7 linked regions of the Homo sapiens genome follow. The protein of the gene in region 1 purifies or fractionates together with the protein of each later gene. This does not show direct contact. Each region holds a gene or a part of one and is shown in the gene's direction. Other genes may lie near its edges.

Evidence for each region.
Region 2: the proteins of CCDC106 (region 1) and ARMC8 purify together in Homo sapiens (affinity purification with mass spectrometry; one large-scale study listed by BioGRID and IntAct). This does not show direct contact.
Region 3: the proteins of CCDC106 (region 1) and GID4 purify together in Homo sapiens (affinity purification with mass spectrometry; one large-scale study listed by BioGRID and IntAct). This does not show direct contact.
Region 4: the proteins of CCDC106 (region 1) and RANBP10 purify together in Homo sapiens (affinity purification with mass spectrometry; one large-scale study listed by BioGRID and IntAct). This does not show direct contact.
Region 5: the proteins of CCDC106 (region 1) and CAMK1 purify together in Homo sapiens (affinity purification with mass spectrometry; 3 studies listed by BioGRID and IntAct, with this or other methods). This does not show direct contact.
Region 6: the proteins of CCDC106 (region 1) and NEFM purify together in Homo sapiens (affinity purification with mass spectrometry; 3 studies listed by BioGRID and IntAct, with this or other methods). This does not show direct contact.
Region 7: the proteins of CCDC106 (region 1) and POMT2 purify together in Homo sapiens (affinity purification with mass spectrometry; one large-scale study listed by BioGRID and IntAct). This does not show direct contact.

What each region holds. Positions count from the first base shown.
Region 1 is NC_000019.10:55,646,504-55,651,566, forward strand, and holds the start of CCDC106 (coiled-coil domain-containing protein 106), read left to right. Parts: upstream 1-1,708; 5' UTR 1,709-2,543; coding exon 2,544-2,574; intron 2,575-2,701; coding exon 2,702-2,806; intron 2,807-2,904; coding exon 2,905-3,081; intron 3,082-4,779; coding exon 4,780-4,992; intron 4,993-5,063. UniProt on the Homo sapiens protein: Promotes the degradation of p53/TP53 protein and inhibits its transactivity.
Region 2 is NC_000003.12:138,294,703-138,299,118, forward strand, and holds the end of ARMC8 (armadillo repeat-containing protein 8), read left to right. Parts: intron 1-1,156; coding exon 1,157-1,190; 3' UTR 1,191-3,671; downstream 3,672-4,416. UniProt on the Homo sapiens protein: Component of the CTLH E3 ubiquitin-protein ligase complex that selectively accepts ubiquitin from UBE2H and mediates ubiquitination and subsequent proteasomal degradation of the transcription factor HBP1.
Region 3 is NC_000017.11:18,052,280-18,056,622, forward strand, and holds part of GID4 (glucose-induced degradation protein 4 homolog), read left to right. Parts: intron 1-1,847; coding exon 1,848-1,955; intron 1,956-4,343.
Region 4 is NC_000016.10:67,726,533-67,730,875, reverse strand, and holds part of RANBP10 (ran-binding protein 10), read left to right. Parts: intron 1-829; coding exon 830-938; intron 939-1,047; coding exon 1,048-1,196; intron 1,197-1,391; coding exon 1,392-1,596; intron 1,597-2,274; coding exon of another isoform or gene 2,275-2,364; coding exon 2,365-2,486; intron 2,487-2,979; coding exon 2,980-3,125; intron 3,126-3,437; coding exon 3,438-3,549; intron 3,550-4,317; coding exon 4,318-4,343. UniProt on the Homo sapiens protein: May act as an adapter protein to couple membrane receptors to intracellular signaling pathways.
Region 5 is NC_000003.12:9,756,175-9,760,118, reverse strand, and holds the end of CAMK1 (calcium/calmodulin-dependent protein kinase type 1), read left to right. Parts: intron 1-368; coding exon 369-447; intron 448-543; coding exon 544-631; intron 632-832; coding exon of another isoform or gene 833-932; intron 933-2,272; coding exon 2,273-2,390; coding exon of another isoform or gene 2,391-2,497; coding exon 2,498-2,580; coding exon of another isoform or gene 2,581-2,602; 3' UTR 2,603-2,772; downstream 2,773-3,944. Other genes in the region: OGG1 (N-glycosylase/DNA lyase), read right to left, coding at 3,303-3,352, 3,498-3,648. UniProt on the Homo sapiens protein: Calcium/calmodulin-dependent protein kinase that operates in the calcium-triggered CaMKK-CaMK1 signaling cascade and, upon calcium influx, regulates transcription activators activity, cell cycle, hormone production, cell differentiation, actin filament organization and neurite outgrowth.
Region 6 is NC_000008.11:24,916,515-24,920,190, forward strand, and holds the end of NEFM (neurofilament medium polypeptide), read left to right. Parts: intron 1-546; coding exon 547-2,092; 3' UTR 2,093-2,579; downstream 2,580-3,676. UniProt on the Homo sapiens protein: Neurofilaments usually contain three intermediate filament proteins: NEFL, NEFM, and NEFH which are involved in the maintenance of neuronal caliber.
Region 7 is NC_000014.9:77,275,518-77,279,860, reverse strand, and holds part of POMT2 (protein O-mannosyl-transferase 2), read left to right. Parts: coding exon 1-38; coding exon of another isoform or gene 39-177; intron 178-274; coding exon of another isoform or gene 275-324; intron 325-991; coding exon 992-1,132; intron 1,133-1,352; coding exon 1,353-1,467; intron 1,468-2,379; coding exon 2,380-2,485; 3' UTR 2,486-4,343. UniProt on the Homo sapiens protein: Transfers mannosyl residues to the hydroxyl group of serine or threonine residues. Coexpression of both POMT1 and POMT2 is necessary for enzyme activity, expression of either POMT1 or POMT2 alone is insufficient.

The sequences.
Region 1 (5,063 bases):
CTGGAGTGCAGTGGCGCAATCTCGGCTCACTGCAAGCTCCGCCTCCCGAGTTCATGCCATTCTCCTGCCTCAGCCTCCTGAGTAGGTGGGACTACAGGCGCCCGCCACCATGCCTGTCTAATTTTTTGTATTTTTAGTAGAGACAGGGTTTCACTGTGTTAGCCAGGATGGTCTCGATCTCCTGACCTCGTGATCCGCCCCCCTCTGCCTCCCAAAGTGTTGGGATTACAGGCGTGAGCCACTGCGCCCGGCCCACAAAAATTTCTTTACCATAGTTAGCTTTAGTTTGTGCATTTTTTTTTCCATCAACTATTATTATTACTATTTGAGACGGAGTCTCGCTGTGTCGCCCAGGCTGGAGCGTGGTGCGATCTCGGCTCACTGCAACCTCCACCTCCCCGGTTTAAGCGATTCTCCTGCCTCAGCCTCCTGAGTAGCTGGGATTACAGGTGTGCACCACCACGCCCGGCTAAATATTTTTTTAAACTGCTGATTTCATCCTATTCTATTGAATTCTCCACCCATGAACCTGTAGTTTGGAAAAGACCAATCTAGGGCAGATGGCTCCCCCTGGAATTTTTGGACCAGGCTGCAGTTAATCTGTAAAGTGGGGAGGGGAGGATCATGGTCACAGCTTTGCAGGCGGTGCAGACATTTAGATTCTCCCTCCATCGGGTTAAGACCTTGCTCTTATAAGGGCTGGCCACAGTCCAGAGCTTGGATGCTTCTGGTGAACAGGAGAGGCAGGTGGAGCTGAGCCTGAAGCTTAATAAACATCTGCTTATTCATTCATTTTTCTTGCCTATTTTGTGCCAGGCACTGTGCTAGGCCTCATTTGCTCTTCCGACCTGTTTTTTTGGGAGGAAGAACAAATCTTCCGTTCATACTCCCCAGAGTGGGAAAGAGCCTCCCAGAGGCTGCCATCATACCCCACCATCTGACCTCAAATAATACCAGCAGCGCTCCTCTCTTCAGCCCTGACGATGGCCAGGTGCTGGGCTGAGCTTCTGTGTGTCGCATCACTGCATCCTCACAATAAATTTAGAAGGGCTTGTAATTTCCCCATTTTGCAGGTGAGTTAACAGGCTGGGGAGGAGCAGGAACAGTCAGGACTGGAATCTAGCTTTGCTCCAAAGCCAGCTCTTAATTACCAACATGGGGATGGGGGTGGCGTGTTCCTGGCCCTCATTTTCCGGGAGAGGGGTAACTCCCCCGATTTTGGCCCCCACATCCCTGAGAACCTTGGGGTCTGGCTGTAGGAGGTAGGGGAGCTCTGAGGGGTCCGCGCTGGCTAGTTCCTGAGAGAGCGTTAAAAGTAGATTCTCCTTTCGCTCCAACTTTCTCGGTGTCTCAAACACTCTCCTGCCTTCTGGGCCCATTGGGCACACCGCCACCCAATCCGGGGACCCCCGGAGACTCGCCAGCTCTCCAGGATGGGAATTTCGTGATGTTCCCTGCCTGAGCTTCGGGGAGGGCGGGGGAGTGCTGTAAGGGGCTATCGCGCAAGTGCAGACCCTCTGCTTCTGCCGCAAACGGCGGGCCTCACCTGGACCCGGGGACTCTTCAACGAGGGGCGCTAGCCTGGCCCGACTGGGCGAGTCCCCGCGTCCCTGCCCGTTCCGTCGCTCAGTTCCACGACACGCTCCCCTGCCGCCCCGCCTGTTCGCGGGTGGGTGGGCGCTTCCCTCGGCTCCCCGTGACACTTTGCAGACGCTCCCCGGCGCCGGGCATGGGCGCCGCCGCCGTCGGTCCCCGAGCCGGATTCCGCGAGCGGGTGGGTGAGCGCGGGGGGCCTCGGCCCCTCGGACCCCGGGCACCCGCGGGCGGGGGATGGTGGCCGCGTTTGCACCCCCGCCCTAGTGCATGTTCCCGCTGGAATCGTTCCACGACCGCTCCCCCTCCCACCCGCGGGACAAAGGGCGGGGGCGGGGGGGGCGCACCCCCACGCGTGACCTTTCCCCGTACTGCGCACGCGCCCAGCCCCCACCACCGGGGGACGGTCCGCCCGCCCACGCGAGTGCGGGGGAGGGGTGTGGGGGCCCCGAAGGTAGAGGAGGCAGCGCGCACGGGCTGGACCTCCTCCTACCCTGGGAAGTTGGGGCAGTTTCCCCCTGCACCTGCCTCTTCCTTAGGCCTGGCAGTGGCCCGCGATGAGAGAGGGTCCTTCCCCTTCAGGCTAGGTGTCCCTGGTCAGGCGACCCCTTGGGGCACCCAGCAATTTAGGGCTTCAGCTTCCTTTTCCTTCGATACCCAGGAGCCCACGTCCCCAGCTCACTTCTCCCCCAGGACCTAGGCGGCTGGGCCCCCTGCCCCTGACTCCAGGAGCCCAGGAGTTTGAAGCCCAGGCGCGTTTTGCCTCAGTCCTGGGGTCCAGGCTCCCTCCTCCCTCAGACCAGGGGTCCAGGCCAGAAGGTCCCTCCTGTCTCACTTCACCTCCCCCAGGATGGACCCTCCAGTCCATCTGCGTCTCTCCATTTGTGGCTGCCGTTTCTGTCCAGTGCCCCTGAGGCCCTCGGCTGCTGGGGTCCGTAGGAAGCCGCGCCATGAATGACCGGAGCAGTCGGAGGCGGACAAGTGAGGAAGCTGGGTCCCCTTCCCTACCCTGGGTCCCAGTGCGGTCGGCTCCAGGCTGCCGTGGTTGGGGGGTGGCCTGAGAGGCCCGGGGAATTCTCTGGGGTAACCCGGGGCCTCTCCTCTCCAGTGAAGGACGATGAGACCTTCGAGATCTCCATTCCCTTCGATGAGGCACCCCACCTAGACCCACAGATCTTTTACAGTCTGAGCCCCTCTCGGAGAAACTTCGAGGGTGAGCTGAGGGGGTGTGGAGGGACTGGAGTCAGCTGGGAAGCCAAGCCCTGAGTCCCAGGGTGTGACCTGGTCCCCCCACCCTCGCTGTGTCCCTAGAGCCTCCGGAGGCTGCGTCCTCCGCCCTGGCTCTGATGAACAGCGTCAAGACCCAGCTGCACATGGCTCTGGAGAGGAACTCCTGGCTGCAGAAGCGCATCGAGGACCTGGAGGAAGAGAGGGACTTCCTGCGGTGCCAGCTGGACAAATTCATCTCTTCTGCTCGGATGGAGGCAGGTGTGTGTGGGGTGCTCTGATCCACATGCCTCCCTGTCCCGCTACTGGGTACCCGCTCACCCAGACTCAAGGCTCCACTGTTTGGCTGGCTGGGTGGGACCTGCCATGTTGGCCCTATCTGCTAGTCCCCTGCCTGTTTTGGGCCCCCAGGCCCAGCTGCCTCCTCACTTGATTCCAGGGCCTCATCCCCATGAACTGTCTACTGGGGCCCGTCCTCCTGCCTTCTCCGTCAGCTCCCCAAATCCCATCAGCCTCCAGTGCCCTGCCATCTGCTTCCTTGGCCCATGGTGACTTCAGGGACCCTGGCACCTGAGAGCCCCTCTCTTCTGACTCCTAGGGGGACCTTCCTTCATCTCTTTGGCCAAGAGGCCCACCCTAGTTCTTTGGGTTTCCTCAGGGGGCCCCTGCTCCTCCTCCCGTCCCTGTCTTCTCCAAGATCCAAGAGTCCAGCCATCCGGCCTCCTCCTGTCCCCCCCTCCCCTCTGTGACACCAGGGGCCATCTTCCCACCCACCCTGTCCCATCCTTGGTTAATGAGCACTCCTTCCCCATCAAAGACATTAAGTCCCTTCCTTTGTGGGCCTTTTTGGGTGGTGACCCCAGCAGGTGCTGTCCCTCAAACCCTGCCTGATTCCTGGGCAGTCCCCACCCACATACCTTGCTCTGCTATAATTCATGGCCAGAAGCAGCCCAGATAGCTCCCACAGCAGCACCCAGCCCCAGCCAGTTCACAGCTAGCGTCTTCTCTTGACTGGTGGGACCCTGTGCCCTGTTTAATACATTTTGGACCCCAGCCCCATCCTCTTCCCCGGATGGTCAGGCCGTTTGCCCGACAGCCCATGGCCTGGAGAACCCACACTCTACCCCACCTACCCTCATCTCAGCCTTGCTAGCTCCTTGGCTGGGAAGACCCCTCAAAAGCTCCCACATCTCTCTTTGTGAATTCAACCCTTTCCCCAAAAATCCTAGGCAAGGGGGCTATGGTCTTGTGGTGTCTCTGTTACTGGAAGCCCAGCATCTGGGGATCTGGCTTTCCCTCTGCTCGGGAACAAACCACCTCTGGCTGCCCTTGGGCCTGCCACTGTCTCCTCTCACTGATGGTTCCATCCTGGGTGACTGACTCCTTTGCACAGACAGTTTGGCCCTGCGGCTTCGGCACTTTCCCAGTGGGGACCCTGGCACCAGAGCCCTCCCCTAACCCGCCTTCTAGAGGAATCTGTGTCTGGGCCTCCGCCTGCCGGCTCCCTCTGTCTAGATGGAGGTGGGACCCAGCCTGCTGGACCCAGGGCCCCTGATTTCTCTCGGTCTGACCCCCCGACTCCAGCCAAGGCCTTGCCTGCCTCCTGGGTTTCCAGAGGCTACTCTCCAGAGGTCCCGCCCAGTCCCCAGAAATTTCTCCCTCCCCTATGGGAACCGCGCATAGTCACAGGGGTCCTGAGGCCCCTGGTCGGCTGCCTCCGTAAGACCTCTTGCCAACCCAGGCCTCTGAGAAAATGCTCCACCCATTACCACCTCCCACAGACCCCAACTGGCTCTACTCAGCCACCAGCGTCTCTACCGTACTCCTTGTCTCTCTGTCTCTTTAGGGGACCAGCCCAGGTTGGGGGATCCAGTTCGGGGACTGCAGCCTCTCTCAGTCCCGGGACCTGTGATGGGATGTCTGGTCCCTTGGTTCATGTGTGTGTCTCCATCTCCCCAGAGGACCACTGCCGGATGAAGCCTGGGCCCAGGCGGATGGAGGGGGACAGCCGTGGTGGGGCTGGGGGCGAGGCCTCGGACCCTGAGTCAGCAGCCTCCTCCCTCAGCGGAGCGTCCGAAGAAGGCAGCGCCAGTGAGAGGAGGCGGCAGAAGCAGAAGGGAGGTGCTAGTCGGAGGCGCTTTGGGAAGCCCAAGGCCCGGGAGAGGCAGCGAGGTGAGTGGGGTGCATGGGGCGGGCGCTGAGGGGCCCGGGCTGCTGAATTGCTGTGTGTCCTTCCCAGAGGT
Region 2 (4,416 bases), on another chromosome or scaffold:
CATTGCTGAAACCTGACTTCCTAACTCCCACGATTACAGCCTCTTTAGAAACTTTACCATGTTTGTGATAGGAATAGTAAAGGAGGCCTCCTTGGGCCCACCTCAAAGGAGGCCACTTTTACAAGGATCAGGATAGATTAAGTCACTGTTCACATTATTTTTTGGTTTGTTTTTTGGGTTTTTTTGTTTGTTTTTTGTTCTTTTTTTTTTTTTGAGATGGAGTTTCACTCTTGTCGCACAGGCTGGAGTGCAATGGCACCATCTCAGCTCACTGCAACCTCCACCCACCAGGTTCAGGCCATTCTCCTGGCTCAGCCTCCGAAGTGGTTGGGATTACAGGTGCCCGCTGCCACACTCGGCTAATTTTTGTATTTTTGGTAGAAACAGGGTTTCACCGTGTTGGCCAGGCTGGTCTTGAATTCCTGACCTCAGGTGATCTGCCCTCCTCAGCCTCCCAAAGTGCTGGAATTACAGGTGTGAGCCACAGCACCCGGCCTACATTCTATCTTTTCCTTTCCACCTGGCCACCTTCTTCCCCCATCACCGTAACAACACACATCTCACATTGATCAGTTATGGTGTCATCAGGTGTGATGAGAAGAACAAGATGAAATTGTAGCCTTCTTCCACGGTTCTGAGGCATGTGAAGCATAAGACAGCCTCATCCCATGGGCTCTTGGCCCCTTCCATGCACCTTCTAATCACCTCAACACCATTTCCTCGGTCAGTTTTCTTATTTGCTTCCCAGAACCCTAAGTGTTCTCCCTAGTGTTGTGCCTCACTGCATAAAACCTACATGGCAGTAAGAAAAAGTAAAGAATGTAAGACCTATCACAACTATATGCCAGTGACAAAAGAAAACATAGAATGTCAGCACATACCAGGGACTGTGGAATGTCACTGAGCTGCAGCAGGTTTAAGTGCAGGAACAGCCCTCTGAGAGATCCACAGGAAGAAGAATATAGCCAGAGTAGATTTCAGGTGTCTACCCACTGCAGATCTCTTCCCCTTAAGGTAGGTGCCCACCTGGGCTCACCCCAATTCCCTCTGGAGATTTACTTTTTTAGACTTCCCCAGCTATCATCATTGAACCATAGGGTTTTTTACCCCAATTACAATTCTGAGATGATGGCTAACAGGAATTTTGTGATTTCAGGGCAAAGATGGCACTGCAGCAGTACCTGGCATGATGGGAGTGCCCCTGGGCACCTGCGAGCATCCCACCTCCTTGTTTAAGGAAGTACAGGAACCAGCCTCATTTGATTCCTTCTATTTGCACAAGTCACCTTGGACTGCAGGGAGCTGTTTTGCAAAAGCAGTTTAGTAGGCTTAGATCTCAAATTCATCTTGAGAACATTTTTTTGAGGTAGTAATTTCCTCAGAAGACTCTTGTGTTTTGTTTTGGTTTTTTTTTCTGAGCTACTCGGACTCTTTATTAGAACAATCAATCATTTTCCTTTGGACCTACAATTTTTGCCTATGCTGCAGCCACTTTGTGAGTGAGAATGAATATGTCTGTGTGAACACACAGGCATGCGTGTGTATGTGCACGTACATGGGCCAGAATGAATGGATGTGTGTGTGTGAGGGATACCTCAGATTTTTCTTTTCTTATTTTGTGTGAAAATCTCTTTTCTACAGATTTTCCAGGGTTTAAGCATTGCTTGCTGTATAAAAAACTTTACTGAATTATATACAGTTTGAATGAAATGTTATTTTAAAAACAAAACAATTGTTAAGTGTTCCATAAAGGTTATGTTGAATTTTGGTCAGATGAATATTTGTAAGTAAAAAATATATGCATTTCTGAACCTCAACTTACATAGATTTTCTTTATATAAAAAAAAAGAAAAAAAAAGAAAAAGTTGGCTATAGTTGGCCTGATTAACAGGCACTATACATGGTGCTGTGCAAAATAGTAAGCTAGCATCTTACTGCCGTCAATATTAGCAGGTACAGAGCCTTTTTTCATCCTAATTCAGTAAGTTCTCAGGCTTCCAAGTCAAATGGAGAAGTAAAGTGAGGCAACAGATTCACCATAGGCTTTTTGAAGCATCAAAGGGAAATATAACTACTGATAGTGAAAGCCCAGCCATGACCCAGATGGGCTTACCCTTGACAGGAACTGGGGACCAAGAGCCTCCCAATTGCCCTAACTCCTGTCATTGGTATTAGCAATATCTGGCCAGATTTAGAACCAGTCATGGAAACTTGTGCTCAAACTAAAAGTAGGTCATCACTTCCCAGAAACAGAATACCTTGTGCTTCCTGAAACAGCATATATCACTGTGAAACTAAAGAATATTCTACAGACACCCCTGTAGAAAGAAACAAAGAACAGGATAGTTTAGAAAGCTTTCTGTTAGCTGTATTCAGCAAATTTCATACTAGTTGCTCAGGACTGCTAGTTGGTATGCTTTTGTAAAACGAGATTGAAATTTAATAAAAGATGCAACTAAAATCTTTCCTGCATGAAGCTAAAAGCACTCAAGTTGAGAGAGGGGCAAGGGAATCTCCCCAGGATGACTGAAGATGACTTCTTTTTACAGCAAGTACTGTTAGCCTTTCTGCACCCCTTAGCTTGGCCCCTGCTCCAACTTCTGGGTCAGCAGCAAGGTGAACTCAACAGAAGTTGCTCTTGACTGTTTGAAGGTAGAAGCAGCCTACCTTTTCTCTTTGCTAAAAGAAGGTCAAAGGCTTCGCAACCAGGATGCAAGGTCTGCGGTCCAGAAGCTTGCGGTGAGTGTGTGCCACTGATGGAGCTCCAAGCCCACCCACCAGCCACTCCTGATGGGGTTGCTCACACTGCAGCTGCCCTATCACCACCCTGCACGTTCCTTGGAAGATTTAAATGTTTGGTTGCAAATGAATGTTTTAAAAATGTATTTAATGCAATTTTTCCTGCTCTCAACATGACCACCCAAGATTCAAACACAGAGACTTCCAAGTTACTATTTTTTCAGAACATCACCGATTTTAAAATCTGTCACAACAGGACTTGGTTTTGTGCAGATATCAGAGTGCTAATGTGAGAAACCCAGTTAAAAGAAAACTTAGTTTATTGGGAAGAAAGCCTCAGGCCCACTCGTTTCTAGAACTGTGAAAATATCCTTGGTTGGCATTTTTAACACAAAACACTATAGTGTTGGTATTAAATAGTACTAGGTAAATATAAAGAAACCAATAATGAATTGCTGAGACAATCTTGAACCCAAATAGCATTAGAAAGCTGAAGGCCCAATGAAATAACACTTTCACACTTAAACTCTGTGGATAAATTTTGCCTGTGGGTATAAACAGATGGTCAAATTAAAAATGCTTTACTATAATTAACTTTTCTGATTTGAATGAAGGGAAATGTATTTATTGAAACAAAGCTGTTTGCTGCTTTATGCAGGTGCAGTGTTCAGTCAGCAAGGAAGTGGGAAGAGTGGACATGGTATTGTGTCTACACCCAAGTTCTTAACTAAGCTTCTCGCTCTAATACTGCATTCTGTTTCTCCTTTTGTGCCCTGATTGTAATCCAAAATTTATGAACTAGAAAAGAATGTCCAATTTAATAAGTTGCATTTTTTTTTCTTTAAGCACTTTATTCAGAACAATACATGTTCTTCTGGTAGTGTTTGGATAATATGATTTTAACACATGCTAATAAAAGCCAAGAAAAATCATGGCAACTTCTAAAAAGGAGTCTGTTTTCCAAATGTCTAGAACATTAGGAAACATCAGAAGATAATGTGTACACGCTTTTGGAACCTGTGATTCTTGGTAAATGAAGGGCTGGGAAGTGGCTTTGCATTTCAGAGTGGGACCCAGTGCCTTAAGGTAAGTGTGGTTCCCAGAGGCATCTGCAGCAGTCTGGGGACCCCTCTCTTTTTGGCCTCCTTCTGAAGGCCAGCAGACCCTTCACAGGTGGCCACTCCCAGCCACAAGATATCCCATCCCCAATATCATGTCCACCCCCTCCATCCTCTTCTCCTTAGGTATGCCCCATCTCCACTACCACCAGCTTGCATCTCCACTACCACAGTATGCAAGAGCTTGCTATCCCTCTGCAAGGACACACAGGTGCTCTTCGTCTACTACGCACTGCCACCTTTTCCCATCTCTGAATTGTAGGCACATCTCCTATCTCAAGGCCTCACTGGAAACAAAGCCAAGGACACCTGCGCCAGAGTGGCGGGAGGATGATGAGGTGGCTAGCAAGAGAGGGAATAATCATGGTGGGAACCTCTGAGAGGACCCAAGGTAAGGCGAAGAGAGTAGGAGCAGGGCCAAGCAGGCCCCTGTTTCCCATAACTACCACAGGAAAACTTGGAAGTGAGGTCTAAGGAGGGAAGGGGGACTCCCACCCCAGATCTTGATGGAGGGCTGACAGAACGGTTCCAATTTCTTGCCACCTGGGGTAGGAACTGG
Region 3 (4,343 bases), on another chromosome or scaffold:
CCTCCATGGTGTCATCCTAAAGCAGGCCTCCTGAGCCACCTGCAGCGGTGGTGACGTTCTGTTTCCTGGGAGCCTCTGCACCAGTGGCTTTTACTGTGGCAGCCTCTCTCAGGAAGGTCCTACACTACATGCAGGCCAGGTTGGTAGATGTGGCAAAGCCATCAGAATGAGGTTTTTGATGCAGAATAAGAGGGGCTTACATCTGATCTGAAGGAAAAACGTGGGCCTTCTGCAGTCCTTGATGTTAGGACTGTAATCTGTGGTTTTCCAGGCCAGTGACTCTCATAACCATGCTCCTGGCAGACACCAGGGGCTTGGCAAGGTAGCCTGAGAGGTGGGTGCTTGGTTGGTTTCTACAAATGCAGAGAAATGTAGACTTTTTACGGTGTTAACTTTTTGTCTTATTAATCTTTTTTAAAATCATTGGTGCCTACTTATTAACACATGAACAAAGAGCAATTAACAAAGCACCCAAGCCAGCACATGGCTTCTTGCTTACGTTTTCCACGGTGTGGTTTTTACATTCAGACATGATTTACATATGTTTTTCCTCATATAAATTGTTTTTAGTTCATATGTTTTTCCTCATATAAGTTGTTCTTAGTTCATGTGACAGAATTAAACGTATCCCTATGTATCAAGGTATTCTAAGACTACCTTCAGGGACCATTTGTATAGTTCATTACTAGAAGTTTCTCTGAACATGTAGAACACTGAAAAAAGTATTTACTTTTTTTTTTTTTTTTTTTTTTTGAGACAGAGTTTCACTCTTATTGCCCAGGCTGGAGTGCAATGGCGTGATCTCGGCTTACTGCAAACTCCGCCTCCAGGTTCAAGCAATCTCCTGCCTCAGCCTCCCGAGTAGGTGGGATTACAGGCATGCGCCACCACGCCCGGCTAATTTTGTATTTTTAGTAGAGATGAGGTTTCTCCATGTTGGTCAGGTTGGTCTTGAACTCCTGACCTCAGGTGATCCTCCCACCTCGGCCTCCCAAAGTGCTGGGATTACAGGCGTGAGCCACCATGCCTGGCCAAAATAAAAGGTATTTTAGGCTGGGTGCGGTGGCTCACACCTGTAATCCTCGCACTTTGGGAGGCCAAGGCGGGTGGATCACCTGAGGTCAGGAGTTCGAGACCAGCCTGGCCAACATGGCGAAACCCCGTCTCTACTAAAAATACAAACATTAGGTGGGCGTGGTGGCAGCCAACTGTAATCCCAACTACTCGGGAGGCTGAGGTAGGAGAATCACATAAACCCAGGGTGTGGGAGGAGGTTGCAGTGAACCGAAATTGTGCCATTGCACTCCAGCCTGGGCGACAGAGCAAGACTCTGTCTCAGGAAAAATAAAAAAGTATTCTACCCCAGAATCCACCCTGGAACCTTGGAGAATTGGTGTAAAAGGGACAAATGACTGAGCCAGTTGGAGAACCAGTGGCTTGAGGGAGCCTTAGTGGTAGACACAGTGATTTTGGAGCCTCTTTGGGTCTAACCTTGGAAAGTAAAATCTACCAAGTTATGATCTGCTTTGTATGCTAGAATATTAAAAATTTATTTGTGGAAACATCCAAATTATTTTCTAAGAGACTAGCATGTAACAATTGAAGTCAAAGAAGGGCTGTCTGCTGCTGGCAAAATCCAGGAAACCCTTCATTCTCTGGGTGATTTAGATTCAGGTCCATTGCCACAGCCTGTTGGCAAACTGGCTGCGATCTAACTCTGGTTTGGATTGTCAGGTAGCAGTGTCTAGGTACTGGAAAGAAGTTAAAGCAAAGTTTATTTTTCCTTTGTACAAAGGTTAAAAACTCTCACTCAACATCTTATTTTGATATTTGGGTTTTTACCATAGGAGTATCCAACCCTTACAACCTTCTTCGAAGGAGAAATAATCAGCAAAAAACACCCTTTCTTAACTCGCAAGTGGGATGCAGATGAAGATGTTGATCGGAAACACTGGGTGAGTAAATCTGATCTGTGCTGGGTCATCTAGGGGCTGCTAGAGAATTGAAGAAATGCTGGGAGCCAGAGACCTTGTCCCTTATTGAGGATTACTGGGGCTTTGCAACCAAGTAAAAGGTTGCACTGCACACAGACCTCAGTTGTTCCATCTTCCTTATGAGGACAGTTTAAATACGATCTGACCTGCTGCTTAAATAGCAAATGGTTGTCTGATGATAGCAACCCCAGAGTTCCAGCCAGAACTCTGCTCAGCTATCAGAATCTTAACAGTGTCCCCCCATCCTTCCCACCTGTTTGTCCATCTTCTGTCCACTGTTCCTTTCAAATCACCTCTGCTTGGGGAAAACCCTGTGAAACATGCAATGATGACCTCCGGCTTCGGGGCTGGCATGAGATGGAGATGATGTTGTGGGAATCTGCCTGCCCACTGGCTTATCAGGGCAGAGCCACATCATTTCTTTTTATCCTGGCTGCTGACAGACAAGTATAGTCTTGTCTTAAGTACACCACTATAAATCCTGCTGCCCCCCTTTTTAACTGTCAAGTGTAGAGCATTCTCACTCAGCAGTAGTGAATGCTTCAAGACAGTTAGTGTCCTGGGATCTTTTCATTTGTTGTCATATAAGTACCATGTCTTCAAAAATCAGTGTCTCGGCTGGGCGCGTTGGCTTGCGCCTGTAATCCCAGCACTTTGGGAGGCCGAGGCGGGCGGATCACCAGGTCAGGAGATTGAGACCATCCTGGCTAACACGGTGAAACCTCGTCTCTACCAAAAATACAAAAAATTAGCTGGGCGTGGTGGTGGGCACCCGTAGTCCCAGCTACTCTGGAGGCTGAGGCAGGAGAATGGCGTGAACCCAGGAGGCGGAGCTTGCAGTGAGCCGAGATTGTGCCACTGCGCTCCAGCCTGAGCAACAGAGTGAGACTCCGTCTCAAAAAAAAAAAAAAAAAAATCATTTTCTCAACCTAATAGCCTTTTGCTTTAGTTGACCATGGTGATGGTGAATTTTTGTTTAACATTGAAGAAGTTCAATGGGTTTACCCTCCATAAACCAACCAGAAATGGCTGTGTCAGTAGCAAAGATTCTAGAACTCGTTCTTCCCATTGCCTCTCACACCTGGCTATCTAAACTCTCCCCTGGTTCTGGCACAGCAGTCTGTGGAGAGAACTCCCGCAGACCCTTGTCTTGAGTTCACCTCACTAGAGATCAGTTGCTTTGCTTACTAATGTTTTTTATTTGTTTATTTTATTTAAAAAAAATTTTTTTTAGAGTTGGGGTCTTGCTCTGTCGTCTATGCTGGAGTGCAGTGGCATGATTATAGCTCACTATAGCCTCAACCTCCTGGGCTCAAGTAATCCTCCCACCTCCGCGCCCCAAGTAGCTAGAACTACAGGCACGTGCCACCACACTGAGCTCATTTTCTTTTATTTTTGTAGAGACAGAGTCTCCCTATGTTACCCAGGCTGGTCTTGAACTCATGATCTTAAGTGATCCTCTTGCCTTGTCCTCCCAAAGTGCTGGGATTATAGGTGTGAGCCACTGACCCAACCTGTTTTTTTGGTTTTTCTTTTATGGGGGTTTTTGTTTTGTTTTGTTCTGTTTTGTTTGGTTTGGTTTTGAGACAGAGTCTCAGTCTGTCACCCAGGCTGGAGTGCAGTGGCGTAATCTCGGCTCACTGCAACCTCTGCTCACTGCAACCTCCGCCTCCCAGATTCAAGTGATTCTCATCTCTCAGCCTCTCAAGTAGCTGGGATTACAGACGTGCACCACCGTGCCTGGCTAATTTTTGTATTTTTAGTAGAGACAAGGTTTCGCCATGTTGGCCAGGCTGGTCTTGAACTCCAGGCCTCAAGTAATCCTCCTGCCTTGGCCTCCCAAAGTGCTGGGATTACAGGCGTGAGCCACCATGCCCAGCCCCAAGCTGTTTTTTACTTGAGTAAAAAAAGGAGATCTATCAAATACTGAGGTTCAGTTAAATTTAAATTTAAACTTGAGCTTTTTAAAGCGTTTTTTGAATTCTATACATTTTGATTGTTGTAGCAAATGGACACTAAAAACTAGACAGTCATTTGTGTCTCTCTGTGATACAAGAGAATGCACAAGACCTGAGTATCCAGAAGGTTGGGGGAGCCCAAGTGGTGTATGAAGGTGCTGGCCACCAGCAGGTGGAGTTGGAAGGGCTCCCTAGTACCATCTGCGCCCACCCCTGCCCAGGGCTAGGCTCTTCCTGCATGGCTTGCTGCCTCACGAGATGGCTCCTTCCTCTCCTGTACAGTCCCAGAGTAGAAGGTTCTTCCTTGTAGTAAACCACAGCCTCTCTCCCATTCAACTCTATTTTCCATTTCATATTGGTCCTGCAAAAAGCAAAGTCTTTGAGGCCCAGT
Region 4 (4,343 bases), on another chromosome or scaffold:
AAAGGAGCCCAGTGAGGAGCTAGAAGGAGAAAAGGAGAATGAGGGCAAGTGGGTGTGGATATGCGTGTCTGTGAGTGCCTGCCTACCCCTCTCCAAGCCTGCTGTCTCTTCTGTATGTGCACGTGTCTGTCTCCCAGAGAAGCTGTGCTCAGCCAGACAGACGGAAAGGGATCCCAGACTTGGGATCTATGAATGAGAGCCTCAGACTCTGAAGTTGCTCCCAGCGAGATGCACCAGGCCCCACGGCAAGAGCGAAAAGGCAGCAGCAAGATGCTGATGGCGTGAGAGGTGTCAACATCAGAGGTGCCAGCATGAGGAGGATGGCCTCCTCTCCCAGCAGGGGGCATGCTGCAGCCCCTGAAGACCACCAGCCAGAGCCCTGGTCAGAAACCAGTGTGATTCCATTGCCATTCCCCTGTGAGGCCTGGAAGGAGAGGAGTCTGTCTGAAGAGGAGCCACTCAGGCCGCCAAGCTGCCTGGGTGCCCATCCCCAGATCATGTTGCCCCAGCTGGGGCCCTACCCTGCCCCCAGGTCCCTGGCACCATGTGCCCCGCAGGAGCAGACCTCCACATTTACCCTCCTGCCTTTGGGCTGAGAGTCTCCCCTCCATCTTCCCCATATTCTTGAGGACTCTCTGACACTTGGCAGAAACCAGGATCTGTTGGGCTGGGCAGTCAGGTTCTTTCTCCAGCCTCCTCTCCTGTGAGCATTTCAAGCTGGCGAGGCACTCTGAGCCGGACCCTACCCTGAGGCTGGCAGCATCCCAGGTGTGTGGCTGTGGGAGAGGCCTGTAGCCCTCGCTCACTGCTGTGTTCTTGCACCCTGCAGAGATCCAGAAGCTGGTGCTGGAGGGCCGTGTGGGCGAGGCCATCGAGACCACCCAGCGCTTCTACCCAGGGCTGCTGGAGCACAACCCCAACCTCCTCTTCATGCTCAAGTAAGTCTTGGGCACCCCCAGCTCCCCCAGAGTCCAGCCCCTCTCAGCTGGTGGTGGGAACGTCAACCTGGACCACAACCAGAGCATTATTGCTCCGCTCCCTCCACAGGTGCCGGCAGTTTGTGGAGATGGTGAATGGGACGGACAGTGAGGTCCGAAGTTTGAGCTCCCGAAGCCCCAAGTCCCAGGACAGCTACCCTGGCTCCCCCAGCCTCAGTCCCCGACATGGCCCCAGTAGTTCCCACATGCACAACACAGGTCAGCCACTCTCCAGAGGGCTCTGGGAAGAACTGGTGTGGAGGAGAGAGGCCACTCCACATACCCTTTCCTGGGCTGGGCTCAGGGCTCACTGCTGGATTTGGGAGAAGGGAAATGGGACCACTGTGGTTGTTCTTGGGGCTTCATTTCATGGGAAGCTGCCCCTCCTCTTCTGACTGTCACCCTGGCTTCTAGGAGCAGACAGTCCCAGCTGTAGCAATGGCGTCGCGTCCACCAAGAGCAAACAGAACCACAGTAAATACCCTGCACCCAGCTCCTCATCCTCGTCCTCCTCCTCCTCCTCGTCCTCTTCCCCATCCTCCGTCAATTACTCCGAGTCCAACTCAACAGACTCCACCAAGTCCCAGCACCACAGCAGTACCAGTAACCAGGAGACCAGGTGCCTGCCTTGCTCTGCTTCCTCCTCTGCCTTCTGCCTTATGCCAGCTGGGCCCATTGCAGTCTGTCCTTTGAGCGCCCTGCCCTTCACCCCCAGCCTCCATCTCAGGTCTGTGCCTGGAGTCCTAATTTTTGGCCCACCGGGCCAGACATCAGCTCTGGCTTCTGGCCCTCCCCACGATTTAGCTGCACTTTCTTTGGCCTTGGCTTTCTCCAGAGGCTCCAATGATGCCAGGCTGAGGATGTGGTCTCCTCCAAAGAGGCCGGGCCTGTGAGAACCCTCAGGGTCCATCATGAGGGAGCTTTCCCTGGCTCTGGCTTGTAGACAGCCAGGTTGGGCAGGCAGGGGAAGCTAAGCCGCAGGCTAGAGCTCTAGGTGGCTCTCAGCATCCCCAGGTACACCTCAAGGCTGACCTGAGTTTGGCTTCCAACCAAGGCCACAGAGCTGCCCATGGGGGCCATGGGGCCCAGTCATTAGGTTGGGGGATATGTAGAAGAGGTGTGTGAACTCAGAGGAGGGCCAGGGAGGGGAGAATCACAGAGGCAGCACTGGGGCAAGGGTGGGAATCAGGTGACAGGCCTCTGAGGATAGCTGGTGTCACAGTAGGGGCCAAGTGCTGAAGACTTGGAAGCCTGAGCTGTCCTTTCATGTTCCTGGGGGTCCTCGGTTCACCCACAGCAACCCATGGCTACAGCTTGAAAGGAGGCCCAACCAGGCTGCTCCAACCACACCCCCTGGGCCAACTCCCACCTCAACCCCTCCCCACAGCGACAGTGAGATGGAGATGGAGGCAGAGCACTACCCCAACGGTGTGCTAGGAAGCATGTCCACACGCATTGTTAATGGTGCCTACAAGCATGAGGACCTGCAGACGGATGAGTCCAGCATGGGTGAGAGCCACGGCCCGGTGTGCTATTCTTTGAGGGCAGTGTGCAGTCTGGGTGCCCTCTTCCCCTGGGAGGGGCTGGGGTAGGCAGGCTTTGGCATCTTGAGAAGCTTCAGCCAGACCTGGTCCACAGCCTCCTTAGCCGATTGTGAATGGGTCCTTGAGGTGGCTCCAAATGTACGAAGGCCCTGGCCTGTGCCAAGACCACCTATGTTTGAGGCTGGAGGGTGTTCGAGAGCATGGGCACCCTAATGAGCACCCTGCGTCTGTGCAGGCTGGGAAGAGGGACAACTTCCAAGTCCTCCCTAAATCCTAGACTGTGCGCCAGGTGAATGAAGAGAAGAACGCCTTGACTGTAGCTGCCTCACCTGTTCCTCCCAGCCCTGCCTGCCTCTGGCAGAAGCTGCAGCCCACCCGGGGTCCTTCCTGCCCCACCCTAGTCCTGCCCTTCCCTCTTCACCCCTCCTAACACGTTCTCCACTGGGTTCTGGATGCAGATGACAGGCATCCTCGGCGGCAGCTCTGCGGGGGCAACCAGGCTGCCACAGAAAGGATCATTCTGTTTGGCCGCGAGTTGCAGGCATTGAGTGAGCAGTTGGGCCGGGAGTACGGCAAGAATTTGGCCCACACAGAGATGCTGCAGGTACAGGATGAGCCGGGCCTCATGCAGAGCAGGCCCCATTTGGTGTTGGGGGCAGGGTGGCTCTGGGAGAGTCCAGGGGGCAGCAGGAAAGAGTGGGCTCCAGCCAGGTCTGCAGAGGGAAGTGGGGCATCTGGGCCCACTGGACATGTGCCCTCCACACCTAGGCTCTGGGGAGAGTACAGCCCTGCCCGACCCTACACCCCACATTCCAGGCTGGGCATCATGCAGGGCCCTGTCTCCCTCTGGAGCCACGGGTAGCAGGGTGAGCTATGGTGTGTGCCACAGTCCTCTCAAGAATGCCCTGTCCTGTAGGATGCCTTCAGCCTGCTGGCATACTCAGACCCCTGGAGCTGCCCAGTTGGCCAGCAGCTTGACCCCATCCAGAGGGAACCTGTGTGTGCTGCCCTCAACAGCGCCATTTTAGGTGAGTGAATCTATTTATTATTATTATTAGAGACAGAGTCTGCTCTGTAGCCCAAGCTGGAGTGCAGTGGCACAATCTTGGCTCACAGCAATCTCCACCTCTGCCTCCTGGGTTTAAGCAATTTTCGTGCCTCAGCCTCCTGAGTAGCTGGGACTAAGGTGCGTGCCACCACGCCTGGCTAGTTGTTGTATTTTTAGTAGAGACGGGTTTTGCCATGTTGGCCAGGTTGGTCTCGAACTCCTGGCCTCAGGTGATCTGCCCGCCTTAGCCTCCCAAAGTGCTGGGATTACAGGTGTGAGCCACCATGCCTGGCCTAGGTGAGTGGATCTAACAAAAACAGAAGCTAGCCCATAGCTACCTGGGTGGTTCCCAACCCCCACCCCAATTGGCCCCAGAAAGAGCTGATGTTTATCCACACTGGGGCAGCAAGCTCTGTACAGGCCCTCTCTGGTGACTCATAGGACTCCTGGGCTCCCATGGTTGAACCTAAACCTTGACCTCTGTCTGCCCAGCTGAGTTCATGATGGGTCCTAGGCCATGGCAGTAGGCCCAGGCCAGCCCAGCGCTCTACATGGGGCTAAGGTCCTCAGGTTCCTGGCATGACTTCAGGGCCATGGCCTGGTGGCTGGGACACACTTACACAGAGGTACTGAACACTCTGTTCCAAGAGAATCTGTCCACTGCCCCCTCCTTCCACCCCCAAGGGAACTTTGACCTGGGCCCAAGCCCTGGGCAGGCCAGTGACCAGGCCTTGTCTTTCCTCCACAGAGTCCCAGAACCTGCCAAAGCAGCCC
Region 5 (3,944 bases), on another chromosome or scaffold:
GCGCCCACCACCATGCCCGGCTAATTTTTTTTGTATTTTTAGTAGAAACAAGGTTTCACCATCTTGGCCAGGCTGGTCTTGAACTCCTGACCTCGTGATCCACCTGCATTGGCCTCCCAAAGTGCTGGGATTACAGACATGAGCCACTGTGCCCGGCCATATGTTTTTCTTAAGAGAGAAAGGAAAGAGCTGGAAGGCACGGGGTGGGAGGGCCTGAAGAAGAGCATAGGTTGGGTGGGGTGGGGCATGGACTGATTTGGCCTCTTTGTCTTGATGCCAGGCCAGACCTGAGGGAGTGGGTATGCTCTTGGGGAGTACACAGGCAGTACCATGCTGTCATTATCTTTGCTTTTGTCTTGGGGGTTTAGCCAAAGATTTCATCCGGCACTTGATGGAGAAGGACCCAGAGAAAAGATTCACCTGTGAGCAGGCCTTGCAGCACCCATGGTGAGAATTCACACAACCTGTGAGCTGGGGCGGGATTTGGGGCCCTCAGGTCTGCTTCTGCCCTCATAGGCAACCCACCACATAACCCCATCCTAGGATTGCAGGAGATACAGCTCTAGATAAGAATATCCACCAGTCGGTGAGTGAGCAGATCAAGAAGAACTTTGCCAAGAGCAAGTGGAAGGTGAGTCCATATCCCTAGTTCTGGTCCCAGCCTCCCCAGGACTCCTCCCCATCCCTACCCAGGCTCAGCTTGCACAGCACCTGGCATCACACTGGGCACACAGTAACTGCTTAGGGATCCTTACTGAAGGACTTCATTCATTCACTCTTTCATTCAACAAACACTCCCAACACCTTCTCTATTCCAGAGAGGGTCCCTCACCTCCAAGTCTAGAGGAAGAAGTCTGTAATTCTTCAGGAGGCATCTGATCCAGCCTATGGGGTCCGAGAAAGGTCATAAAAGTGGTGATGACCTGACAGAGCTGTCAGTTAAGTAGGAATTAGTGAGGCATAGCGGAATAATGTCTATAGCCATTCCGGGAAGTGCAAGTGCTAAGCCTGGCCAGACTGGAGGGGCTGAGGGGACTGAGAGGCAGGAGCCCAATTTAGAGAAGCAGGTAAGGGGCCAGGCCTCTTAGGGCCTCATATGCCACAGAGGAGCACCAACTTGATCCTGAGGGCACTGAGGAGCCCCAGAAGAATCTTAGGCAAGTATTTGCTGCATAGAAAGGGCTCTCAGGGCCAGGCATGGTGGCTCACGCCTGTAATCCCAGCACTTTGGGAGGCCGAGGTGGTTGGATCACCTGAGGTCAGGAGTTCAAGACCATCCTGGCCAACATGGCAAAACCCTGTCTCTACTAAAAATAAAAGAATTAGCCACACATGGTGGTGCGTGCCTGTAATCCCAGCTACTTGGGAAGCTGAGGCAGGAGAATTACTTGAACCTCGGAGATGGGGGTTGCAGTGAGCTGAGATCGCGCCACTGCACTCCAGCCTGGGCAACAAAGTGAGACTCCACCTCAAAAAAAAAAGAAAGAGCTCTCAGGATGCAGAGAATGGCATGGAGTAAAGACTGGGTGACGCATTAGGAGGCTGTGGCAGAGATACAGGCAGGAGATGGTAAGGGTTTGGAACCACAGTAGCAGCAACAGGGGGCAGAGAACAGTGGTTGATCCAGGAGTCATTTAGGAGGTGAAACTGACAAGACATGACGATGCAATGGATGTTGGGGGAAAGAGATGTCAAGGGCTGGCCCAAGACTGTGGCTGGGAACAGAATGGATGGTGGTGGTACCATGACTGAGATGGTTATCACAGGGACAGAAACATGTTTTGGGGGGATGGTTTTAGTTTTAGACATGGTGAATTTGAGGGGTGTGTGGGACACCTAGGTGGAGATATTGAATAGAGACACACCTGAGCAAGTTACTTCAGCTTTCTGTGCCTCAGTTTCCTCCTTTGAAAATGATAATAGTACCTACCTCAAAGACTTTCATGAAGATTAAATGAATTACTACGTAAAGTGCTTAGAACAGTGCCTGACATACAGTGCTATAGTGTTTGCTATTACATATTAATATGAATTATAGTTATGTTTCTATTTATATATATAGATACACATACATCTAACATATGTGCGTGTGTGTGTGTAAATATATAATAAAGCCTTGTAGAGGTTTTTGGGGGGCTTTAGGGGAATTAATAAAATAACTCCTGAATGAAAATAACAGAACAATTGCAAGAATCCCACTGCGCCCCTGCCCCATGACTTGACTCTCTCAAAAGTCCTTTCTCCCCTCTCCCTTCAATGCCTTCAATGCCAGCAAGCCTTCAATGCCACGGCTGTGGTGCGGCACATGAGGAAACTGCAGCTGGGCACCAGCCAGGAGGGGCAGGGGCAGACGGCGAGCCATGGGGAGCTGCTGACACCAGTGGCTGGGGGTGAGGAGCGGGCTCTGCAGAAGGGCATGGGTGGTCCACAAAGGTGCACCCGGGCTGGAGTGGAGGGCCTGCCCCTGCGGCCACCTCTGTTCTGTCTTCCCATGCAGGGCCGGCAGCTGGCTGTTGCTGTCGAGACTGCTGCGTGGAGCCGGGCACAGAACTGTCCCCCACACTGCCCCACCAGCTCTAGGGCCCTGGACCTCGGGTCATGATCCTCTGCGTGGGAGGGCTTGGGGGCAGCCTGCTCCCCTTCCCTCCCTGAACCGGGAGTTTCTCTGCCCTGTCCCCTCCTCACCTGCTTCCCTACCACTCCTCACTGCATTTTCCATACAAATGTTTCTATTTTATTGTTCCTTCTTGTAATAAAGGGAAGATAAAACCATCCTTAGCGCTGTCTCCCTCAATATCCCCCACCCCATCTTGTTGTGCAAACTGACTGCTTGATTTGGGGGTGCCTGGCCTTTGAGGTAGTCACAGGGAGGCCCCTCCCCAACATGAGACTGGGTGGGGATGGGGAGAGAGAAGTGGGGAATGGAGGGGAAGGTGCTTGGGGAATTTCTTTGTCCAGGGTGCCCCATCTAGCCTTCCGGCCCTTTGGAACCCTTTCTGCGCTTTGCTGGTGGCTCCTGAGCATGGCGGGATTGGCGCAGGTCGGCACTGAACAGCACCTGTAGGAGGGTGGAGTCTGTGTGGGGAGGAGGGTACACTGGGGTCAGGGCTGGTGAGACTAGTGACAGTGTTGGGAGGTGGAAGAGTCCTTGGGGAACAGGGCCGAAGGCAATGAGAATCCACTGGGGTTGGGACAGGGGTGGCTGGAGAGTCCTTTAGGGCCACCTGGGGCGGTGGTGGAAGAGTCCACTGGGTCTGGGCTGGAGGAGAGGAAACCTAGGGAGGACACCTAGGTACACTCACCGCTTGGGCCCAGCCAGCATAAGGTCCCCACAGGCTCCGGAAAAAGTTTCCTAAATCAGAAGTGATGAGACTAAGTTATCTGACCCCTTCTGTGACCCATCAACAGAAGTAGGGTCTGAGGGAGAGGTGACTAAGAGAGAGAGAAGTTTCTACCATCCCAGCCCACTGCCAGCCCCTGCAGCCCACTTTCCTCACCCAGTTCCTTGTTGGTCTGGGGGCTCGGTCCCTTCGCCTGGGACGTGGTAGGGTGCCAGCTGTAGTCACGTTGGGCAATGTGCCACATATGGACATCCACGGGCACAGCCTGGGGCTTGTCTAGGGCCATCAGGCAGATGCAGTCAGCCACCTTTGACAGACACAGAATGAGCCCTTGTGGAAGAAGGGCAGCATGTGGCCAGCATCTTGCTTATAGCCCCAAAGCCGGCTGCTTTCTCCTTCACTCTGGGGTTACTGTTGTTCTATATTCTCAATCAACAGATACTATCTATGAATACACTTTTTTTTTGTTTGTTTTTGAGATGGAGTCTCGCTCTGTTGCCTAGGCTGGAGTGCACTGGTGCAATCCTGGCTCTCCCAGGTTCAAGCAATTCTCCTACCTCAGCCTCCCAAGTAGCTGGGATTACAGGCATGTGCCACCACGTG
Region 6 (3,676 bases), on another chromosome or scaffold:
GCTATCTCTCTTTTCAGGAAAGCTGAATAACTACATTAAATAGACACTTTATGATAAAAATTATCAACAAATTTATAACTCGATACACCTGAAAATCTAAACGTTTAAGAAAGTGACTACTCTCAGAAAGGCTGTTTGGCTTTGGAGTTTGGGGGCGTTTTGTTTATGGCTTTTTGTTTTTTTGTTTTTGTTTTTGTTTTTTGCTATTTGGCCACTAACAAGTTTTTCAGCATATTCATGTTGTACCTAATGGATCTCTACTGCAGGGCCAAGACTTAGTAGCTGGGTGTGGTTAGTGGACTATTGGGCAAGGTTAGTCATTGTAGGGGGCAACTGTCTGGCAGTCCAGGAGAATCTTTCTCTGTCACTGAGTATAATGTAATATGCCAGTAAGTGATAGCAGGTATTATAGTGAATTCATAGAATATTCTACTTATGTAATTCTATTTATTCAAAGGTAGCTACCACAATACCCAGAATGTAATGAAGCTCAGAAGGCCTAGTGAAATTTTTACTATGTCTTATGTTCTTGGATTTTCTCCTTAGAAAACTCCTGGAGGGTGAAGAGACTAGATTTAGCACATTTGCAGGAAGCATCACTGGGCCACTGTATACACACCGACCCCCAATCACAATATCCAGTAAGATTCAGAAACCCAAGGTGGAAGCTCCCAAGCTTAAGGTCCAACACAAATTTGTCGAGGAGATCATAGAGGAAACCAAAGTGGAGGATGAGAAGTCAGAAATGGAAGAGGCCCTGACAGCCATTACAGAGGAATTGGCCGTTTCCATGAAGGAAGAGAAGAAAGAAGCAGCAGAAGAAAAGGAAGAGGAACCCGAAGCTGAAGAAGAAGAAGTAGCTGCCAAAAAGTCTCCAGTGAAAGCAACTGCACCTGAAGTTAAAGAAGAGGAAGGGGAAAAGGAGGAAGAAGAAGGCCAGGAAGAAGAGGAGGAAGAAGATGAGGGAGCTAAGTCAGACCAAGCCGAAGAGGGAGGATCCGAGAAGGAAGGCTCTAGTGAAAAAGAGGAAGGTGAGCAGGAAGAAGGAGAAACAGAAGCTGAAGCTGAAGGAGAGGAAGCCGAAGCTAAAGAGGAAAAGAAAGTGGAGGAAAAGAGTGAGGAAGTGGCTACCAAGGAGGAGCTGGTGGCAGATGCCAAGGTGGAAAAGCCAGAAAAAGCCAAGTCTCCTGTGCCAAAATCACCAGTGGAAGAGAAAGGCAAGTCTCCTGTGCCCAAGTCACCAGTGGAAGAGAAAGGCAAGTCTCCTGTGCCCAAGTCACCAGTGGAAGAGAAAGGCAAGTCTCCTGTGCCGAAATCACCAGTGGAAGAGAAAGGCAAGTCTCCTGTGTCAAAATCACCAGTGGAAGAGAAAGCCAAATCTCCTGTGCCAAAATCACCAGTGGAAGAGGCAAAGTCAAAAGCAGAAGTGGGGAAAGGTGAACAGAAAGAGGAAGAAGAAAAGGAAGTCAAGGAAGCTCCCAAGGAAGAGAAGGTAGAGAAAAAGGAAGAGAAACCAAAGGATGTGCCAGAGAAGAAGAAAGCTGAGTCCCCTGTAAAGGAGGAAGCTGTGGCAGAGGTGGTCACCATCACCAAATCGGTAAAGGTGCACTTGGAGAAAGAGACCAAAGAAGAGGGGAAGCCACTGCAGCAGGAGAAAGAGAAGGAGAAAGCGGGAGGAGAGGGAGGAAGTGAGGAGGAAGGGAGTGATAAAGGTGCCAAGGGATCCAGGAAGGAAGACATAGCTGTCAATGGGGAGGTAGAAGGAAAAGAGGAGGTAGAGCAGGAGACCAAGGAAAAAGGCAGTGGGAGGGAAGAGGAGAAAGGCGTTGTCACCAATGGCCTAGACTTGAGCCCAGCAGATGAAAAGAAGGGGGGTGATAAAAGTGAGGAGAAAGTGGTGGTGACCAAAACGGTAGAAAAAATCACCAGTGAGGGGGGAGATGGTGCTACCAAATACATCACTAAATCTGTAACCGTCACTCAAAAGGTTGAAGAGCATGAAGAGACCTTTGAGGAGAAACTAGTGTCTACTAAAAAGGTAGAAAAAGTCACTTCACACGCCATAGTAAAGGAAGTCACCCAGAGTGACTAAGATTTGAGTCCATTGCAAAAGGTTAAGCCATATGACAATTTCAAAATGCATGTGATTGGCAGCTTCAAAACAGAACGGGTTCTCCCATGGGGGCTCCAGACATTGTATTTTACTTTGTGCAATATGAGGGGACTGCATGCAAGCTCAGGGTGCTCCCTCCTCAGTCTTTGGGGGATTCAAATGCATGATATTGTATGTACCTGGGAAATTTGCCGATTTCCTAAGCTGTTGGAAGGGGGTCACTTAAGGGGGGATGTCTTGAGATGTATTATGCAAAGTACCAACTGAGCCAAAAACAATAAACGAAACACAGAACTCAGCCTTAAGAAAGCTATATATGAATAATTATGTTTACCTCACTGGTGCATTTAAAATGGACTTTTGTTCATGGGAGAACCTCGTTGACATGCACAGTTTGCAATCTTATGTTGATCGATGTTAAACGTCACAGCAGTACTTGCTCAATAAAGGTCATATTGGAAACATAGTCAATTGCTGAGTCTTATGTCATTTCTCTTTTTCTAATTTTTATTTATTTATTTTTATTTAGAGATGGGGTCTTGCTATGTGGCCTCAAGCAGTCCTCCCACCTCAGCCACCCAAAGTGCTGGGATTACAGGCATGAGCCACCACGCCCAGCCTGTTATGCCATTTCAAAGTGAAATCTCCACTACCTGAAGCTTTCTTGCCCTGAAATAGATTATTGGGGGGAATCATAAGTAAACTGCACATCTTATTGCTATTTCCCTGACAGCAATTACTTGGAAAACGTAATTGCTGAAGATATTTTCAGGTGTCAACATCTTCACCGAGCCCGGTCTTCATCCCAAAATTTTAAAATCATATTTTTGAAATAAAAATAAAAGCATCAGATACAAATAGGAATCTGGTGGGATAGAAATCTTCAGTGTTTGTTTCTATCCCAAAACAGAACTCAGAACCTCTAGGTAAGAGGACCAATAAAGGAGGGGTTCATAACTTGTGCCTTGGAGTTGGGACAGAGACAGAGGAGCTCATGGCATTTATGACGATGTGTCCAGTGGGGACAGGGCTGACATCACTAACACTCCTACCCGGAACTATCCAGCCTCAGAGGCATGCCTCCTGTGCACAAACACACACATACACATTGTCTGCATCACTAATGCTTGATTTGACTGACAGAGATTTACACCTTTAGTATTTTACTAATTGTGGAAAATGATATAAAAAATAAATAAAATACCCTACCTGAGAAAAGAAAAATGAGATTCTGTGACATAGGCAATAAGTGTTTTTAAATAAAAAGACATGATCTTGACCAAGGAAATACTATCATCCCCTTTTCAAAACTTGTTTTAGGCCTTGAAGACCATTAATATATTAATTAGCACATTATCCTGTCCAAGTCCATGTTTTTTCATTAATAGGATCAGCTCAATAATACAATCCTTGATATATTTTCAATGACTTTTTCAAGATAACTCCAATTTTAATGCCTAAACATACCCAGGAAGCTAATTGTTAACGGCAGTTTTTATTGTTTCCCAATCATTAGCCATTTGCCAATCCTCACAATTTTGGCTACATCTGAGTATTATCTGT
Region 7 (4,343 bases), on another chromosome or scaffold:
CATGCAGAGAGGGGCACGGCTGCCAGCGGAGGTTGCAGGTCAGGTCCTCTGGGCTCTCCCTCCCCTGACCTGGCGGCAGCAGGGCACCTGCACCCCTGGGGAGGGCCGGCTGCCTGCTGATGGGCCATCCTTTGCGTTTACCACCCCACACCTTCCCTTATCCTTTGCTTTTGAAAGGTAACAACCCCCAAGTACCCAGTGCTGTGTTAAACACTTTACTTCCTCCCAACAACACTAGAGCGTTGGCTATTATGACCCCCATTTTATGGATTAGGAAACCAAGGAACCATGAGATTAAGAAACTTGCCCCAGGACATACAGCTAGTAAGTGATAGAGCTGAGGCTCAAACCCGTGCAATCTGACTCCACAGCCCTCACTTTTAGCCCCATGCTGTGTACAGAGCTGCCCATCTTTTCTGCCACCTCCTTGTTCCATGGCCCTGTCCTCTCATGGGCTAGAGAGGAGCCTCCAGGGTTATTGAGTTCCCATCCCAGTGCTGTTCTTGGTAACTTTGGCTGCCAGACCATGGGCCACAGCACCTGAGACAGTCACACAGGCCCTTTTGCCTCTGCAGCTCTCTGTCTGAACAGTCATAGTCCCAGACACCTCCTCACTCCATCCTCACCTGTAACCTCACCTTAGCGCCTGTCTGCCGCTGCAAAGATCTGTGTGGCAGCAAAGATGTGGGAGGTGGAAGTAGGGAGTGAAGCTGTCTGCAGGCGCAGAAGGGTTTCTTTAGAGGCTGGGCTGCCTCCTGCTGGTGCTTGGTGCACCTGCCATTGGTGCCCAGGCCTCACTAGGCTGGGCCCTGACCAGAGCTCTCGAGCCCCAGCTGCTCCTCTCCAGTTTCTGTAGCGTGGTTTGGGTTGGTCCAATGAGGTGATATGACATATTCAAGGTCACACAGCAAGGAAGGGGCAGAGCTGGACCAGAGCCTGGAATCTCTGCCCGCTCCTTGTCTTCTGACTGGGCTGTGCTGCTTGGGCCCAGGGTTGTCCCAGGTCCTGCTTCGAGGAGGCGGCCAGGTCCTGCTCGGCTGGACACTCCATTACTTCCCGTTTTTCCTGATGGGCCGGGTCCTCTACTTCCACCACTACTTCCCAGCCATGCTCTTCTCAAGCATGTTGACAGGTCAGTGCCACCCACCTGGACTTGGGAGACAGAGCAGGTGGAGGGCGGGCCACTGTTGGGCAGCAGTGCTGGGAGTGACTCTGCTCCTTGACGGGAGGCCACTGTGGGGCAGCAGTGCTGGGAGTGACTCTCTGCTCCTTGACTTGGAGTGCCTCCTTCTTCTGTAGCCCAGAAGTCACCCCCTGCCTGGCTGACTCCAGGTTTCTCTCCTCTCCTCTAGGCATTCTGTGGGACACCCTCCTGCGGCTCTGTGCCTGGGGCTTGGCCTCATGGCCCCTGGCGAGGGGCATACATGTGGCGGGAATCCTGAGCCTGCTCCTGGGAACTGCCTACAGGTGAGCATCTCTGCACCTCACATGCCCTCCCAGTGTGGGCTCAGCAGTGCCTCAGCCCTGATGCATTCGAGAATCCCCTGCGGTGCTTTTAACACCACCAGTGCCCATGCCTGGAGGTTCTGCGTCACCCAAGCCCAGGTGGGGCCGTGGTTTCCAGAGTCCCCCAGGTGATCCTAATGTGCAGCCAGGTAGGAGAAGCAGGGCTTAACTCTGCCTTTTCCCCTTCTGCCGGTGGTTCAGCTTTTGTGCCATCCCAGCGCACCTGGAAGGGTACCCCTCTAGTGACAGTGACTCTGTGCCAGAACAGCTCTCAGAGGGGGAGTGTGGGAATGGGGGGCAGGGAACCCCTCTTTAGTCACCATGGCCCCCTGTCAGAACAGCTCTCCGGGTGAGGGAGGGGGGAACCGGGGGGCAATGGGGGACAGGGCACCCCTCTTTAGTCACTGTGGCCCCCTGCCGGAAGAGCTCTCGACGGGTGGGGTGGGAAGGGTGGGAATGGGAAGTGTGTGGCTGAGTGGCTGAAAGGGAGAGTTGTTTGGAAGGCTCCCCGCTTCCCCAGTCCCTGGCCTTGGTGCTGGGCCTGTGGCCTGTGAGCACATGCCTGCCTAAGAGGGTTACATTCACATGTTGACAAACACCCCTGGCCAAATAGCCCATGACAAGACCCCTAGAAGGGTTGCCCTCCTGGGCCTCTTGGGAAGAGCCCTTTCCATGATTGTCATTGAGTCAGCATCTACTAAGCTCTCCAGCTACAGTGTGCCCCAGTGGGACTCAGACAGACAAGGCCGTGAAAGAGAACCGGGCTTGGCGATGGGGAATTTCTCTGGAGCTCCAGCAGGAGGAATGGAATTCAAAGCCCCTCAGCTGAGGCACTGGGGGTGCCAACTGCCTCCTACTGGTTCTCTCTCACAGCTTCTACCTCTTCCACCCTCTGGCTTACGGGATGGTTGGTCCCCTGGCCCAGGACCCCCAAAGTCCAATGGCAGGACTAAGGTGGCTGGACTCATGGGACTTTTGAGGCCACTGCAAAGATTCCAGCCTGGGTCCAGGAACTTCCCAGGAGAGCCAGCTGGGAAGCAGTACTGGACCATCCGGCCATGAGGAAGCTGCCTAAGGAGCCCGAAGAATTCTGCTGCTCACCAGGACCCAGCTCTGGGAGTGCAGCTGGAATGGAACCCAGCATTGGAGAGAGCCGGGAGAGAGCCGCAGCTCCGTCCACAGCACCACGGAGAGGACAGCGCCTCTTGGGCTGCTCCCTCGTGCACAGCGCAGGGGAGGATGGGTGCCAGAGGGTGGGAGTGGGTGCGCGTGTGTGTATGTGAGGGCATGTTGTCCATATCCCTGTGGAATACAGACCGTGTAACTGGACAGCTGAGTGTCATAAACTCTAAAATAGTCCAGGCTATAGTAATATTTTCTGGTATTTTTTTCTGTTGGATTTCTTTGGTTTTGGTTTGTAAGATCCATCAAAAATTCTCAGACCTCTGAGAGGGCCTTGAGGGCAGAGAATACTGACCTCACCTTGGGATGTCACCAAAGGCAGAGCAGATGGGACTGTCAAAGTTGTGCTGCCCTCCCTCCCACAAACAAATGAATCCAGCGTGGAGGAAGGCGCGCCGCCCCGAGCTGGAGGGCCTGGCTCCCACCATGCCCCCCAGTGGCTGCAGGTAGCTGGACTTCCTGCCTGTGACGCACAGAGAGCAGCGGACTCCGGAGCGTCAGCCTGCCTTAGCCCTTGGTTCCTCGTTTTTTGGGATTGTCACACTGTGACACTCGGGAGGAACGATGTCCTATCCTGGGCTGCTCAGTGTTCCCAGGCCCTGTGTGCCAGAGGCCAGGTCTCTCCAAGTGCATCTAGCCTGGCCTGGAGGGCAAGGCAGATGCATTCTCCTGGCTGCTGGGAGAGCCCATGGGAACCTTGCTTAGCGCCCAAGGTAGATGAGAGACAGGGCAGGGAATCTGCGTGGTGCTGGGATGTGGGGACTCTGGCCTCTCCAGACTAATGTTCCTGTCACCTGCTGAGCTTTCCCAGTGTCACTTCTGCAGTCCTCCTCTGCTCACCCCTCCCTCACTCCGTGGGCAATTCCCTTTCTCTCTGTCACTGCTTCAGCAGTGAAGACCCATGGCACCTAGAAATGCATGCCAGCTTCCTGCGTCTACCACTCTGCAGCTCAAACAAGAAGCTCAGAGCTGCCCCTTCCACTTCCTCCCCAAAAGGGATGAAGAAAACCCTGTGGTAGAACCAAACCACCCAAGGCCAGCCCTTAAGCCTGCCTCCACCTTCCTGGTGCATGACAAAATATTTCTTTTGTCTCAGAGGACTTTGATGCTTCAATATTTAATGATGAATCCGCCACACTCCATTTTCCCTCCTCTGAAGCTCCCAACAACTCTGACAGGGTCAGATCTCTTTAAAGCATCTTCAGGAGGCGGTTGCCACGGAGACTGGATATTGGTCCCAGGGACAGGCTGTGCTACCTACTGGGTGGTGGGGAGGGAAGCTTCTGGCCATGCTTGGGCATTCAGACCAACCATCATTAATGTTAATAGAGGAAATGCAGCAACGTCAAAAGCAAGGCAGGTTGGTTAATTAGATCTGGGGCCCGATGACCTCCCTTTCCCACTGCTACAGCCCTTTTGACTTCCCCCAGCAGGAAGCGCTGTCTGTGCGGCTGAGTCTGGGCCACTTGCTTAATTGCATTTCTGGCAGGGAAGGAGAGGAGGGATGGAGAAGCTCTGCTCGCTGCTTCCACCTCACCGTGTGTCCTCCCCTCCCCTCCCTTCCTCTCCTCCCCACAGGCGGAATTGCTTTCTTCTGAGCCGGGTGGGCTCTCCTGCAGGGAGAATGCAGGGGTCTGTGCTTGGCTCTTAGCAAA